Linked DNA regions of Homo sapiens. The protein of the gene in region 1 interacts with the protein of each later gene in a pairwise test. Each region holds a gene or a part of one and is shown in the gene's direction. Other genes may lie near its edges.

Region 1 (3,500 bases):
CAAGATATCAGATGTCGATTGACCACCCAAAGGCAAGAAATTGAGAGCACAAACAAATCTAGAGAGTTGAGAATTGCCGAAATCACCCATCTACAGCAACAATTACAGGTGAGGAAATATGCCTCTTAAAAGCTATTATATTAAACTGGCATCCTTTTCTCTAATTCATTTCATTTACTTACTTATTCAGTAAACATTAAGCAACTGTCTTGTACTAGGCACTGGGAAGCAAAAATGAAGTAGACAGGGTCCTTGTGTGAAAAGTAGCCTGTCAAGGAGACAAACTCAGCAAATATTTACTGAGCACTGCTTCGGGCCAGGTGCTTTTGCAGTTTCTGAGGCTACAGCAGGGACAGACACTCTGTCTTCTGGGAGCTTACCCTCTGTTTGCAGGAGGAACAGAGACTAACAAAATAAAGTGTGTACTGTATTAGAAGATGAAAAGTGCTATGGAGAGTGAGTAGGGAAGGGAATAGAGAGTCCTAGGGATAGGAAATGTTGTGATTTTAACTAAGGTAGCCAAGACAGGTCTTTCTGGATGGTGACATTTGAGCAGAGACTTGAAATTAATGACAGGCTAAGCCATGTGGGTATCTGGCAGAGCAAGATCTAGGCAGGGAAATAGTGCCAAAGTCCTGAGGTCGTAGCAGGACTCTGAGATGCCAGTTACAGCAAGGAGACTACTGGGTAGAGCAGGTGGGAGCTGGATCACACAGAACCTGTAGTCCACCAACAGGACTTTGGCTTTACTGTGGTAATTACAATAAATAAGTACACTTAAGTATTTTAGGGGGTCATATGAGAGCTATATGTATACTAAATAGTTGGAGACATACAGAGCACTTTTAGTAGTTCTGTCTTCATTTTAAAGCCTATCCAAAGTTGTTATAATATCACCTGGTTTGGTATCAAGTGCTGAACTACAGGGGCATCAAATTCATGTAAATATTGCCTGTGGATGATCATATTTGCCTGTGATTCCTTTATGTTAGGCTTTTTCTCAGCATGATGTTTTTGAGATGTGTCCATGTTACTGAGTGAATGACTCTTTTGTTTCTTTTCATCACTGAGTAGTGTTTCCTTATGTGTCCATTCACCTACTGGTTGATATTCAGGTTCTTTCCAGTGTGGAACTTTTATGAATAAAACTGCAGTGAGCATTTATGTACAAGTCTTTATGTGGAAATGGTTTATTTCTCTTGGGTAAACTTTTAGGAATGGAACTACTGTGTCATGTAAGTGTATATTTAACCCCATAAGAAACTGTCAGGCTGGGCACAGTGGGTCACACCTGTAAACCCAATACTTTGAGAGGGCAAGGTAAGAGGATTGCTTGAGCTCAGGAGTTTGAGACCAGCCTGGGAAACATAGCAAGACCCCATCTCTAAAAAAAAAAAAAAAAAACTTAAAAATTAGCTGGCATGGGGGCGTTCACCTGTAGTACCTGCCTGAGGCAGGAAGACCACTTGAGCCCACGATATCGAGGCTGCAGTGAGCTATGATTGAGCCACTGACTGCCTGGGCCACAGAATGAGACCCTGTTCAAAAAAAAAAAAAAAAAGAGAGAGAAAAGAGAAAGGAAAGAAAGAGAACTGACAAACTGCAAAGAGTTTGTACCATTTTACATTCTGATCATTTAATTTGTATTTCCCTGAAGGCTAATGATGTTGGGAATCATCTTACATGTTTATTGGCGAGTATTTTTTACTGTGCATCTTCGTTGAAGTGTCTGAACAAATCTTTTGCCCATTTTTTATTGGGCTGTTTGTCTTACTATTTACTTGTAAAAGTTCTTTTTATATTCTTAACAAGTCCTTTGTCAGATACGTGTTTTGCAAATATTTTCTCCCAATCTGGCTTGGGTTTAATTTTTGTTAGTGGTATTTTTTAAAGGGCAGAAGTTTTAAATTTTGATGAAGTTCAGTTTACCGTTTTTTTTCTTTTGGTGTTCATGCTTTTTATGTTCTATCTGAGAAATCTTTGACTACCCCATGACTGCAAATATTTTATTTTCTTCTAGAAGTTTTTGGGGCTTAAAAAAATAATTTTTACAAGTTTTTATAAATTGAAAAAAACTTAAAATTTTAAGTTTCATAGTTGTATCTTATATGTTTAGGTCTATGAGCTATTTCAAGTTGATTTTTGCAGATAGTATAAGGTAAAGGTTGAGGTTTATATTTTTACATACTGATACACAGTTGTTATAGCACCATTTATTAAAAACACTGGCTTTTTTCCCATTGAGTTACCTTGGTAGCTTGTTGAAAATCAGTTGAACATATTTGTAATGGTCTATTCTGGACTCTATTCTGTTCTTTTGATCTGTCTGTCCTTTACCAGTACCTCACCCTGTTGATACCTAATTTTTGAAGTCAAGTGATACGAATTCTCTGTTATTGTTCTTTTTAGAATTGTTTTTGGTTATTCCAGGTCCTTAACATTTCCATGTACATTTTAGAATCAGCTTATCAGTTTTTACAAAAATGCTTGGAATTTTGTTGGAATTCCATTGAATTTATAAATCAATTTGGGAAGATTTGACATCTCAGCAATAGTAAATCTATGGCATAAATCTCTATTTTGGTAGTTATAAATTTCTCTCAGCAATGTTTTGTAGTTTGCAGTGTCCAAGTCTTGTAGATACTTTGTAAAGTTTATCCCTAAGTATTTTGTGGCTTTTGATGCTATTGTATATTGCATATTTTTATTTTAGTTTCCAGTTGTTTGGTGCCAGTATATGGAAATAGAATTTATTTTTGTATATTGACCTTATATCTGTGATTGCTTAACTAACTTCCTTTGTGTGTCTTACTTTGTTGACCAGAACCTCCCATACTATATTGGATAGAAGTGGGAAGAGCCTTGTTCCCTCTCGATGAAGGAAAGCTCTCTCACCATAGAGTATAGTGTTAACCAGGGTTCTTGTAAACACCTTTTATCAGGTTGATGGACTTCTCCTTTTGCTGAGGGTTTTTATGATGAATGGGTGTTGAAATAGATCATATGTTTTTTCCCCGCATCTATTGAGATAAGTATGTGTTTTTTCTTTCTTATTTTGTTAATATGATGAAGTACATGGTTGCCATTTGAATGTTAAATCAGCCTTCCATTCTTGGGATAAACCACTCTTGGTCATGGTATATTACCCTTTATTAAAATATTTCACTACATTCCATTTCCCATTATTTTATTAAGGATCTTTTTAAATCTGTTGAATTCAATTCAACAGAGATATTGGTTTTTAGTGTTCTTCTAATATTCTTGTCTAGTTTTGATATCAGGGTAATGCTGGCCTCAGAAAATGAGTTGGAAAATATTCCTTCCTCCTCTATTTTCTAAAAGTGTTTGTGTTGAAATAGCATTTCTTCTTTAAATTTTGGTGGCATTCACCAGTGAAGGCCTCTGGGCCTGGAGCTTTCTTGAAGACTTAATTATAAAATTCATTATGCAGATATAGGGCTATTCTGATTTTCTTCTTCTCCTTGAATCTGTTTTGATTA
Region 2 (3,500 bases), on another chromosome or scaffold:
TTTTCCTGTTTTTAGGGTAGATCCTAATGGCTGTGGGATGGTACGAACTCCCTAAACCTCTGCCTGGCACTAGAGTGAATCCTGCTGAGCTGTTTCTCATTTTGTATTTAAAACAGTTAAATGACTTCTTCACCTAAACTCTTAAATAGGGCAGCTAAGATTTGTACTTAGGAAAGGAATAGCATGGAAGATTGGAGCTCATGTAGAATGTATCTGGAAGCTTAAATTAATGAGGTAATTCTTTTGCAGCTTACATAAACTGGACTGTTTACTTTTAGCCACCATGTATACCTACAGTTGTTGGTGATTGTTTTCTGCAGGACTGTGAAGATCCTAATCCTTTGATTCGAGCCTTGGCAGTCAGAACCATGGGGTGCATCCGGGTAGACAAAATTACAGAATATCTCTGTGAGCCGCTCCGCAAGTGCTTGAAGGATGAGGATCCCTATGTTCGGAAAACAGCAGCAGTCTGCGTGGCAAAACTCCATGATATCAATGCCCAAATGGTGGAAGATCAGGGATTTCTGGATTCTCTACGGGATCTCATAGCAGATTCAAATCCAATGGTAATAAGCTTCTGCTTTTACAAAGAGAGCAGTATTTAAAATGAGTCCCTTGTTAAAGCGTGTTTAATATGAACCTTGTCTTTGGAATACTGGGTTATGGGGTAGCTATGGGAAACATGACTTTGTGTGTCTCACAGATTGTATATTTCATATCCTAGGTGTTTTTGAGGTGAGAACCAAGTACTAAAATGCAGGGATCTTAAAGCAAATCTTTGTATTGTACTTATGCTCATATTTGCCCATATTGCCCATGATGAAAACTTTCATCATTTTCTTCAGGAGGTTTGGCCGTAAATTTATATATATTTAAGATTATTTTCTTCAGATCAATATTTGTGGTATTTTCTGGTGGTGTGGGACTAGAAACTGAATGAAAATGATCTTTATTACCTAATTATTATCATGCATTTCTCTATAGGGGAATTTCTAGGGCAAGATTATTTTTAGCCAACTTGGTTATGTTGTAAATGTTTAGCAGCCAGAACATAGCTTAACACCTTAAAGTTTTGGGACCTTTTCCTTATTGACATTTTAAACTTTGCTTATATAATGAAGAAGGTCAAGTCCCAAGTGATATGTTTGACTCCAGTAATAACTAAAGCTCATTTGAATTGGGTACTAATTGAATATATTGGATGGGTCATTAAATATTGTTGCCAGGAAGATGGAGGAAAATAGCCACTTTCTTTAAAGTGCTACCTTTTTGGTCTAATGCAATGTTTACTGAAAGGTGCATAACACTAAGAGTTAATCAGTGGATAACCTTTGAATATTCCCTTTTAAAAATTATTTATCTATCTATTTATTTATTTTTTACAGATAGGATCTTGCTCTGTGGCCAAGCTGGAGTGCAGTGGTGCAGTCATAGCTCACTGTAACTTTGAACTCCTGGGTTCAAGCACTCCTACCTCAGCCTCCTGAGCATCTAGGACTGCAGGCACATGCCACCACATCCCGCTAATTTTTTTTTTTTTTTTGAGACAGAGTCTTGCCTTGTCGCCCAGGCTGGAGTGCAGTGGCGTGATCTCAGCTCACTGCAAGCTCCGCCTTCCAGGTTCATGCCATTGTCCTGCCTCAGCCTTTTGAGTAGCTGGGACTACAGGCGCCTGCCACCACGCCTGGCTAATTTTTTGTATTTTTTAGTAGAGACGGGGCTTCACCGTGTTAGCCAGGATGGTCTTGATCTCCTGACCTCGTGATCCACCTGACATGGCCTCCCAAAGTGTTGGGATTACATGTGTGAGCCACCGCACCCAGCCTTATTTTTTATGGAGATGGGGTCTTGCTATGTTGCCCAGGTTGGTCATGAATTCCTGGCCTCAAGCAATCCTCCCACCTTGGCCTTCCTCAGTGAATTACTGTGCTTGGCCTGAATATTTTCTTAGTGAACTTTAAATGGAGAATTAGAATTTGGCTGGACATAGATGCTGTCTCTCATTTGTAAATTACCTGTTCACTTCTCTGCTTTGACATTTTGTTTGGTTCATTTTATTTTACAGGTAGCCTTGGCTTCTGTTTATTATCCTTCAAGATTAGTATTAAATCCACAGGATGAAGCAAGTCATAATTTTTTAAGGTTTTTATGGTAGTAACTACCATTAGAAATCTTTCAACCTAGGCATAAGGGTGGGCGTCGGTGTGGGTGTGGAAGTGCAGATGCTTTAACCATGACTTCTGACAGAGCATCACCACCAGTACTAGAAGATTCAACCCTGCCTTTTATTTCCCCTAAGTAACACCATATGGTACCTTTTATTTATTTTTTATTTTTTTTTGAGATGGAGTGTCACTCTGTCGCCCAGTCTGGAGTGCAGTGGCATGATCTCGGCTCACTGGAACCTCTACCTTCTGGGTTCAAGCGATTCTCCTCCTGCCTCAGCCTCCTTAGTAACTGGGATTACAGGTGCCCACTACCATGCCCGGCTAATTTTTGTATTTTTAGTAGAGACGACGTTGCACCATGTTGGCCAGGCTGGTCTCAAACTCTTGACTCAGGTGATGCACCTGCCTTGACCTCCCAAAGTGCTGGGATTACAGGCATGAGCCATCACACCCAGCCCCCTTTTTAAAAATTACATAAAGAAATTAGTTGGCTAGGCATGTTGGCTCATATGCCTATAATCCTAGCACTTTGGGAGGCTGAGGCAGAAGGATCACTTGAAGCCAAGAGTTTGAGACCAGCCTGGGCAACAAACTGAGACCCTGTCTCTACAAAAATTTTTTTAAAAAATTCGGTGGGGCCGGGTGCAGTGGCTCATGCCTGTAATCCCAGCACTTTGGGAGGCCGAGGTGGGTGGATCACGAAGTCAGGAAATCAGGACCATCCTGGCTAACGCGGTGAATCCCCGTCTCTACTAAAAATACAAAAAATTAGCCGGGCGTGGTGGCAGGCGCCTATCGTCCCAGCTACTCAGGAGGCCGAGGCAGGAGAATGGTGTGAACCCAGGAGGCGGAGCTTGCAGTGAGCCGAGGTCGTGCCACTGCATTCCAGCCTGGGTGACGGAGCGAGACTCTTGTCTCAAAAAAAAAAAAAAAAATTTTGTTGGACGTGGTGGTGCATGCCTGTAATTCCAGGTACTTGGGAGGCCGAGGTGGGAGAATCCCTTGAGCCCAGGAGTTTAAGGCTGTAGTGAGCTATGATTGCACCACTGCATTATAGCCTGAGTGACAAAGACAGACCCTTCCTCAAAAATATAGAAAAATAAATATTGTCTAAAGTTAGTAGTATCTACTTTACAGAATGTTTAGCTGGCACCAACTTGTGTTTTTGGCATTGCTTTTGATTCACTGTTATTCTGAGCAACTATCTATAATTCTCTACCTGAGGACAGATGAGATGAAAAGTGTTTGTGCTGCAACCGTCAACCAGGTGGGCAGAATATCATGTACCCCGTGGAAACTTATTAAATATTCAGTGGTGCTAAGAATATGGAA
Region 3 (3,500 bases), on another chromosome or scaffold:
TTAAGCTATTCTCCTGCCTCAGCCTCCCGAGTAGCTGGGACTACAGGCGTGTGCCACCACACCTGGCTAATTTTTTGCATTTTTAGTAGAGACGGGGTTTCACCGTGTTAGCCAGGAAGGTCTCGATCTCCTGACCTTGTGATCTGCCTGCCTCGGCCTCCCAAAGTGCTGGGATTACAGGTGTGAGCCACTGCATCCGGCCTGCCCCTACTACTTCTTAAGTCTTTCACCCACTCGTCTAAATGAAGAAGACAATGGGAAGCCATTGAAGGACTTTTAACCAGAAGGGTCACGATCACATCCACATTTTAGAGCTATTAGTTTGGCTACAATAAGGAGAAGAGATTGGAAATACATGTATTGGAGGCAGGAAAGCAGTTGGAAGGAAGACTGCTATAGTAATTGGAACCAAAGATGATAGTACTATAAGTGATTGATAGTGACAGTGAGGATGGAGAAGAAGGCAAGGATTTGAAAAAGAGGTAAGAGGTAGACTGAGCAAGACTTGGAGTCATATTCTGAGGATTAAAGATGACCTGAAGGTTTCTGACATGAGTGACTTTGATGCTTGATGACACCATTTCCCTAAAAAAGATTATAGAAGGAGAAGTTATTTGATGAATACATTCTGCTTGTCTTTTTTTATTTTTAAATAGTTTTTGGTTATCTTTAGTCAGTTTTCTCTGCCATGTCAAAAAGTATATTGTTAATCTACTTGCATTAATATTTTGTAGGCAAGAAGTAGTCCTGAACTACTGCCTTCTGGTGTGACTGATGAAAATGAGGTGACTACAGCTGTTACTGAAAAAGTTTGTTCTGAACTCGACAATAATAGACATTCAAAAGAGGTAAAAAATGATTTTATATTTACATTGGGGACTTGTAAGGGTGGAAGGACAGGAGGAGGTGAATTATCAGACATTACTTAATGGGTACAATATACATTATTCAGATGATAGATACATCAAAAGCCCCGACTTCACCTTTAGGCAATATAGCCATGTAACAAAATTCCACTTGTGCCCCTTGAATTTATACATATAAAATAAATAAATGTTCTTAATAGCTGGATGTGGTGGCAAGTGCCTGTAGTCCCAGCTACTCAGGAGGTGAAGTAGGTGGATTGCTTGAGCCTGAGTTGGAGGCACTAGGCAACATAGAGGGACCTAATCTCTAAAAATTAAATGATATTTTAAAAAAATGTCCTTATCACTGTTTTCCTCAGATGAATTATACACTATTTTAGGTGAAGGAAAGAGAAAAATATGTTAAGGTGAAGGAAAGAGAAAAATGTGTTAAAGGTGCTTTATGACTAGAGAGATATTTGTTACATTACCATCAGTTGATTTTCCTTTTGTTTTCAAGACCAAGTCTCACTCTGTCACCCAGCCTTGAGTGCAGTAGTGTGATCTTGGCTCACTGCAACCTCCACCTCCCAGGTTCAAGCAATTCTCCTGCCTCAGCCTCCTGAGTAGCTGCACATGCCCAGCTAATTTTTGTGTTTTTGGTAGAGACGGGGTTTCACCATTTTGGCCAGGATGGTCTCTATCTCTTGACCTTGTGATCTGCCCACGTCAGCCTCCCAAAGTGCTGGGATTACAGGTGTGAGCCACCGTGCCTGGCCCATCAGTTGATTTTTCAAAGCATGTGTATGACCTGAATGTGTGTTATTTTATTTTAAAATGTTACCTTTTAAAACTTTGGTTTCTAAAAAATAATTTTAATTTAAAATTATTTTTAGGAAGATCCATTTAATGTAGACTCAAGTTCGCTGACAGGTCCAGTTGCAGATACAAACTTGGATTTTTTCCAGTCTGATCCTTTTGTTGGCAGTAAGTACTCTTTTTTTTATATTATAGATTTACCCAAAAAAAAGACTTTTTAATATATAAACTAAGGATTCAAGGCTTCAGTTTCAATAGCCTACCAACTCAGTCTGTCGCCCAGGCTGGAGTGCAGTGGCACGATCTCGGCTCACTGCAACCTCCGCCTCCTGGGTTCAAGCGATTCTCCTGTCTCAGCCTCTTGAGTAGCTGAGACTACAGGCGCCCACCACCACACCCAGCTAATTTTATGTATGTATGTATGTATGTATGTGTGTATTTATTTATTTATGTAATTAATTTATTTAGAAATGGAGTCTCGCTCTGTCGCCAGGCTGGAGTGCAGTGGCACAATCTCGGCTCACTGCAACTTCTGCCTCCCGGATTCAAGCTAATCTCCTGCCTCAGCCTCCTGAGTAGTTGGGATTGCAGGTGCCTGCCACCACACCCAGCTAACTTTTGTGTTTTTAGTAGAGGCGGGGTTTCACCATGTTGGCCAGGATGGTCTCCATCTCTTGACCTCGTGATCCGCCCACGTTGGCCTCCCAAAGTGCTGGGATTACAGGCGTGAGCCACCGCGTCTGGCCTAATTTTTGTATTTTTAGTAGAGACTGGGTTTCACCATTTTGACCAGGCTGGTCTTGAACTCCTGATGTAAGGTGATCCGCCTGCCTCGGCCTTCTAAAGTGCTGGGATTACAGGTGTGAGCCACTGCGCCTGGCCTGCTTTGTATTTTCCTACTGACTAATGTTGAACATCTTTCTAGATGCTTATTAGCCATTTGTGTATCTTCTTTGGAAAAGTGTTTATTCAATTTTGGTGAAGTCCAGTTATCTATTTTTTCTTCTGTCACTTGTGCTTTTGGTGTCATCTAAGAAACTATTACCTAAGTCGCAAAGATTTAATGCTGTCTTTGTCTAAGAGTTTTATAGTTTTGCTGTTACAGTTAGATCTTTGATCCATTTTGAGTTTATTTTTGTATATGATGTGAGATAGAGGTCGAGCTTCATTCTTTTGCAAGTGGATATCCAGTTGTCCTAACACCATTTGTTGAAAAGACTGTCCTTTCTCCATTTTGTGTTCTTGATACGCTTGTCAAAAATCAAATGACCATAAAGGTAAGGATTTATTTCTGGACTCTTCAATCCTGTAAGAATTTTTTTTTTTTTGCTTCAGTAAAGCTCAGTACCTTTATTTCTGAACTGGTGATGATAATACCCTCCCAGTACTCTTGTGGAGAGTAGAGATTTTGTTAGTAAAATTTTTGCTGTAATGTCTTCCCCTCCATCCGTAACCTCAACTTGTGATCAAGGTAAGTATAGTTGGCTGTATATTTCATAAGGTCAATGACATTCCTTATTTTATCTACTGTGAAGTGAAGTTATTGAAATAAACTTTGCTTTGCTTTTGTTTGAAAGTTACTCTTTAAGTAGTGGTGTCACCACAGTAAATATTGTTATTTGGATTTCTTTGTGTTTATTTTATCACAGGTGATCCTTTCAAGGATGATCCTTTTGGAAAAATCGGTCAGTATCTTATTGAGTTTCATCTTAGCTTTCATTCATTTCTGCTTAATAATAAGCTTATGTTATTTAGGTCTGAAACTGAAGCCCCAGTAAGATGCTCTATGTGCCTGGCATTTTCAGAAAGAGAGTAGTAAATTCTTTTGATTTTGCT
Region 4 (2,991 bases), on another chromosome or scaffold:
GAAAGGATGAACTGGATGACGTATGGACAGAAAAACCACTGTTGGTTAAACATTCCCCTGCTTGAACACCCAGACGAGAACCCGTTTCTTAAGAGAACTACAGCCTTATCTATTACTGTTTGCTAAGTTCTCTATGATTGTTTTCTCCATGTGAGAAATAACTTTATAGGTTAGAAAACTAAGAGCCCAACAGCTTAAGAAAAGAAAAGAACCAACCAACCAACCCAGAAAAAGCAAGCTCTCTTTGCCCTTTGATGGACTCTATCAAGTCTTGAGTGCCCTTCCTAGTTCCTGGGAATATACTAACAGATAACAGCAGGTTAGAGCCTGGAGAGGTTTCAAAGTCATCATTTCAAGAGAAAACTGAGGCTTTAACTGGTTTGCATAGGGTGACAAGGCTGGTTAATGGTGAACAGAGACCATGTTAATAACTGAGTCTGCTCCAGTATGCCTCTCCCTACTTATGGCAACCCCAAATCCTGTATTTCTCAAGGAGATTTTGATTTCAAGCATTCTACCCTTTCCACTGTCAAGAGTATTTGCATCTGACAGTTGCCCCACCCCAACTTGGGGCTTAGCCGGAGTTATGGTCACGCCAACTGCATATCATTGAGCATCTGAGTTGACCATCTGTCTCTGCTAAGAGCTGACTCTTCCATTTCCTTTTTAAGACCTGACTTGAGAGAGTCAATACCTCAGGCATTGTAGAAATTGCGGTCATTCTAAAATATAAAAGTGTAAAGTTTATATTAATATTTAATTCATACAATTGGAAAGAACTTTAAACTGCAATTAGGTGTCAGTACCCATCTGCTTCCAGCAGGCTCACACGCTCTTCGATCCCTCGGAGGCCGCAGAGGGCCACGATCACCTTCGAATGTGCTCCTTAACAATGTGCCCACAGTCTCTCAGGAGGGAGCTCCAGATGGTGAAGGAAACTCTGCAGGCCATGATCCTGCAGCTCCAGCCAGCAAAGGAGGCGGGAGAAAGAGAAGCTGCAGCTTCCTGCATGACAGCTGGTGTCCACGAAGCACAAGCCTGAGGAGTGACGGGATGGGGGAGGGAGGTGGGCCACCATGTTTGGACCCGGGGGGCTGCTCTTCCCTCCCCCGCCATAGCTAAGATGCCTGAATCAATTACGGAGATACAGAGCCTTGAGGTCTTTCAGTGGAAAGGTGGTTCATGTTCATTCTCATCAGTGTGAAACTGAGGAGTCTGCAATTTGGAATATGGAGAGAGAGACTGATTTGCTGAATTTCCTTCTAAATGTCACTCAAAAATTTCTTTTCCATGTCATTCTTGGGAATGTCTTCCACAGGATTTGAGAATAGTTTCATCTCAGCCCCCATTAGAGAGAAGTTGGGGTGAATTCTGGAAAAATGTCTCTTTTTCCTGTGCCATTTGCCTTCTGCTGCAACGAAAATATTTCCTGATTCAAGATTCTATAAAAAGGAAACCAAGCATAAGACTCTGTCATCATACCTGTTACACGTTCCTACAGGTGCACAATCTAAGAGAGCTAATTAACCTCAGAGTCTGGAGTTAACAGCTTTTCACCTTACTTCTCCTGTGATCTAATATTATCTTAGAAAAATTAATATGCAATTTCCAAAAGATATTTTGGTAAGACAACAACCTCCCAGTGATATGCCACCTTTCAATTTTCCTTTTGTGGCAATGATTGCATCTGAAGAAAGGATCCCTGAGAGTCTCTGTTTCATCAGGACATTCTGAAATTTACCCACAGTGAGGCTGTGGATGGATCAGGGGACCTGTATAAAATGTTTGAGCCTGTTCCATTTTCCCGTGGAACCTGTTTCACTCAATGCCAGGCAGTGCAGCATTTAGGAAAGCAGTGCAGTACTCAGTAAGGCAGTGCAGTACTCAGTAACACAATACAGTACTCAGGCAGTGCAGTACTCAGTAAGACAGTGCAGTGCTCAGTAAGGCAGTGCAATACTCAGTAACAGTGTAGTACTCAGTAACAGTGAAGTACTCAGTAATACAGTACAGTATTCAGTAAGGCAGTGAAGTACTCAGTAATACAATACAGTACTCAGTTAGGCAGTGCAGTACTCAGGAATGCAGCACAGTACTCAGGCAGTGCAATACTCAGTGCGGTACTCAGTAACACAGTGCAGTACTCAGTAACAGTGCAGTACTCAGTAACAGTGCAGTACTCAGTAAGGCAGTGCAGTACTCAGTAACACAGTGCAGTACTCAGTAATACAGTACAGTACTCAGTAAGGCAGTATGGTACTCAGTAAAGCAATGCAATGCTCAGTAACACAGTGCAGTGCTCAATAAGGCAGTGCAGTGCTCAGTAAGGCAGTGAATTGCTTAGTAACACAGTGTAGTGCTCAGTAGGACAGCATAGTACTCAGTAACACAGGGCAGCTAGTACTCAGTACTATAAGTACTGAGTACTTATATAGGCAATGTAGTACTCAGTAAATCAGTGCAGTACTCAGTAATGCAAGGGCATTTCAGGCTCCTGCTGGGCTGCTTCTTTGGCCCAGCTGGGACTCCTATTGAGACAGCTGCAAAACAGGCTGATTTCAATTAGGCAGCACTTCCCAAAGTGCACTGAGGAAGGTGGCCCCAAGAGAAGCTCTCTAAACAAAGGAGTACCCTCTCTGGTCAAGTACCTTTGGTAAATACACCATACCATAATATCTGCTTGGAGAACCACAATGCACATTAGCATATTAGTCTGAGAGAGAACTTATAGTAAGGAAACTCACTTGATTTTATCTAACCTCAAACTTTCCAAGTTTAATGGATCGTGAATTTTTTTCATGTAACTCCTATTCATATCCCATAGATCTAGTATTGTACAGCACTGCATTCTCTGAGGAAGTCCCAGTCCAAACTCTGATTTACATCACTTTAGAAACCACACTCACACTTTTGCAGAGTGTTGAGCTTAATAACTACCTGCCACAGATTGGTAAATTTAATCCAGTGGTTGTTCTGTTTGTGCTTCTGTTC

What was found. Proteins that work in one complex are often made in the same cells at the same time.
Region 2: the proteins of ITSN1 (region 1) and AP2B1 interact in binary tests that used the Homo sapiens proteins (3 or more experiments, as listed by UniProt).
Region 3: the proteins of ITSN1 (region 1) and EPS15 interact in binary tests that used the Homo sapiens proteins (3 or more experiments, as listed by UniProt).
Region 4: the proteins of ITSN1 (region 1) and DISC1 interact in binary tests that used the Homo sapiens proteins (3 or more experiments, as listed by UniProt).

What each region holds. Positions count from the first base shown.
Region 1 is NC_000021.9:33,775,001-33,778,500, forward strand, and holds part of ITSN1 (intersectin-1), read left to right. Parts: coding exon 1-108; intron 109-3,500. UniProt on the Homo sapiens protein: Adapter protein that provides a link between the endocytic membrane traffic and the actin assembly machinery. Acts as a guanine nucleotide exchange factor (GEF) for CDC42, and thereby stimulates actin nucleation mediated by WASL and the ARP2/3 complex.
Region 2 is NC_000017.11:35,607,822-35,611,321, forward strand, and holds part of AP2B1 (AP-2 complex subunit beta), read left to right. Parts: intron 1-320; coding exon 321-566; intron 567-3,500. UniProt on the Homo sapiens protein: Component of the adaptor protein complex 2 (AP-2). Adaptor protein complexes function in protein transport via transport vesicles in different membrane traffic pathways.
Region 3 is NC_000001.11:51,400,767-51,404,266, reverse strand, and holds part of EPS15 (epidermal growth factor receptor substrate 15), read left to right. Parts: intron 1-734; coding exon 735-848; intron 849-1,741; coding exon 1,742-1,832; intron 1,833-3,313; coding exon 3,314-3,349; intron 3,350-3,500. UniProt on the Homo sapiens protein: Involved in cell growth regulation. May be involved in the regulation of mitogenic signals and control of cell proliferation. Involved in the internalization of ligand-inducible receptors of the receptor tyrosine kinase (RTK) type, in particular EGFR.
Region 4 is NC_000001.11:232,035,790-232,038,780, forward strand, and holds part of DISC1 (disrupted in schizophrenia 1 protein), read left to right. Parts: intron 1-902; coding exon 903-1,042; 3' UTR 1,043-2,991. UniProt on the Homo sapiens protein: Involved in the regulation of multiple aspects of embryonic and adult neurogenesis. Required for neural progenitor proliferation in the ventrical/subventrical zone during embryonic brain development and in the adult dentate gyrus of the hippocampus.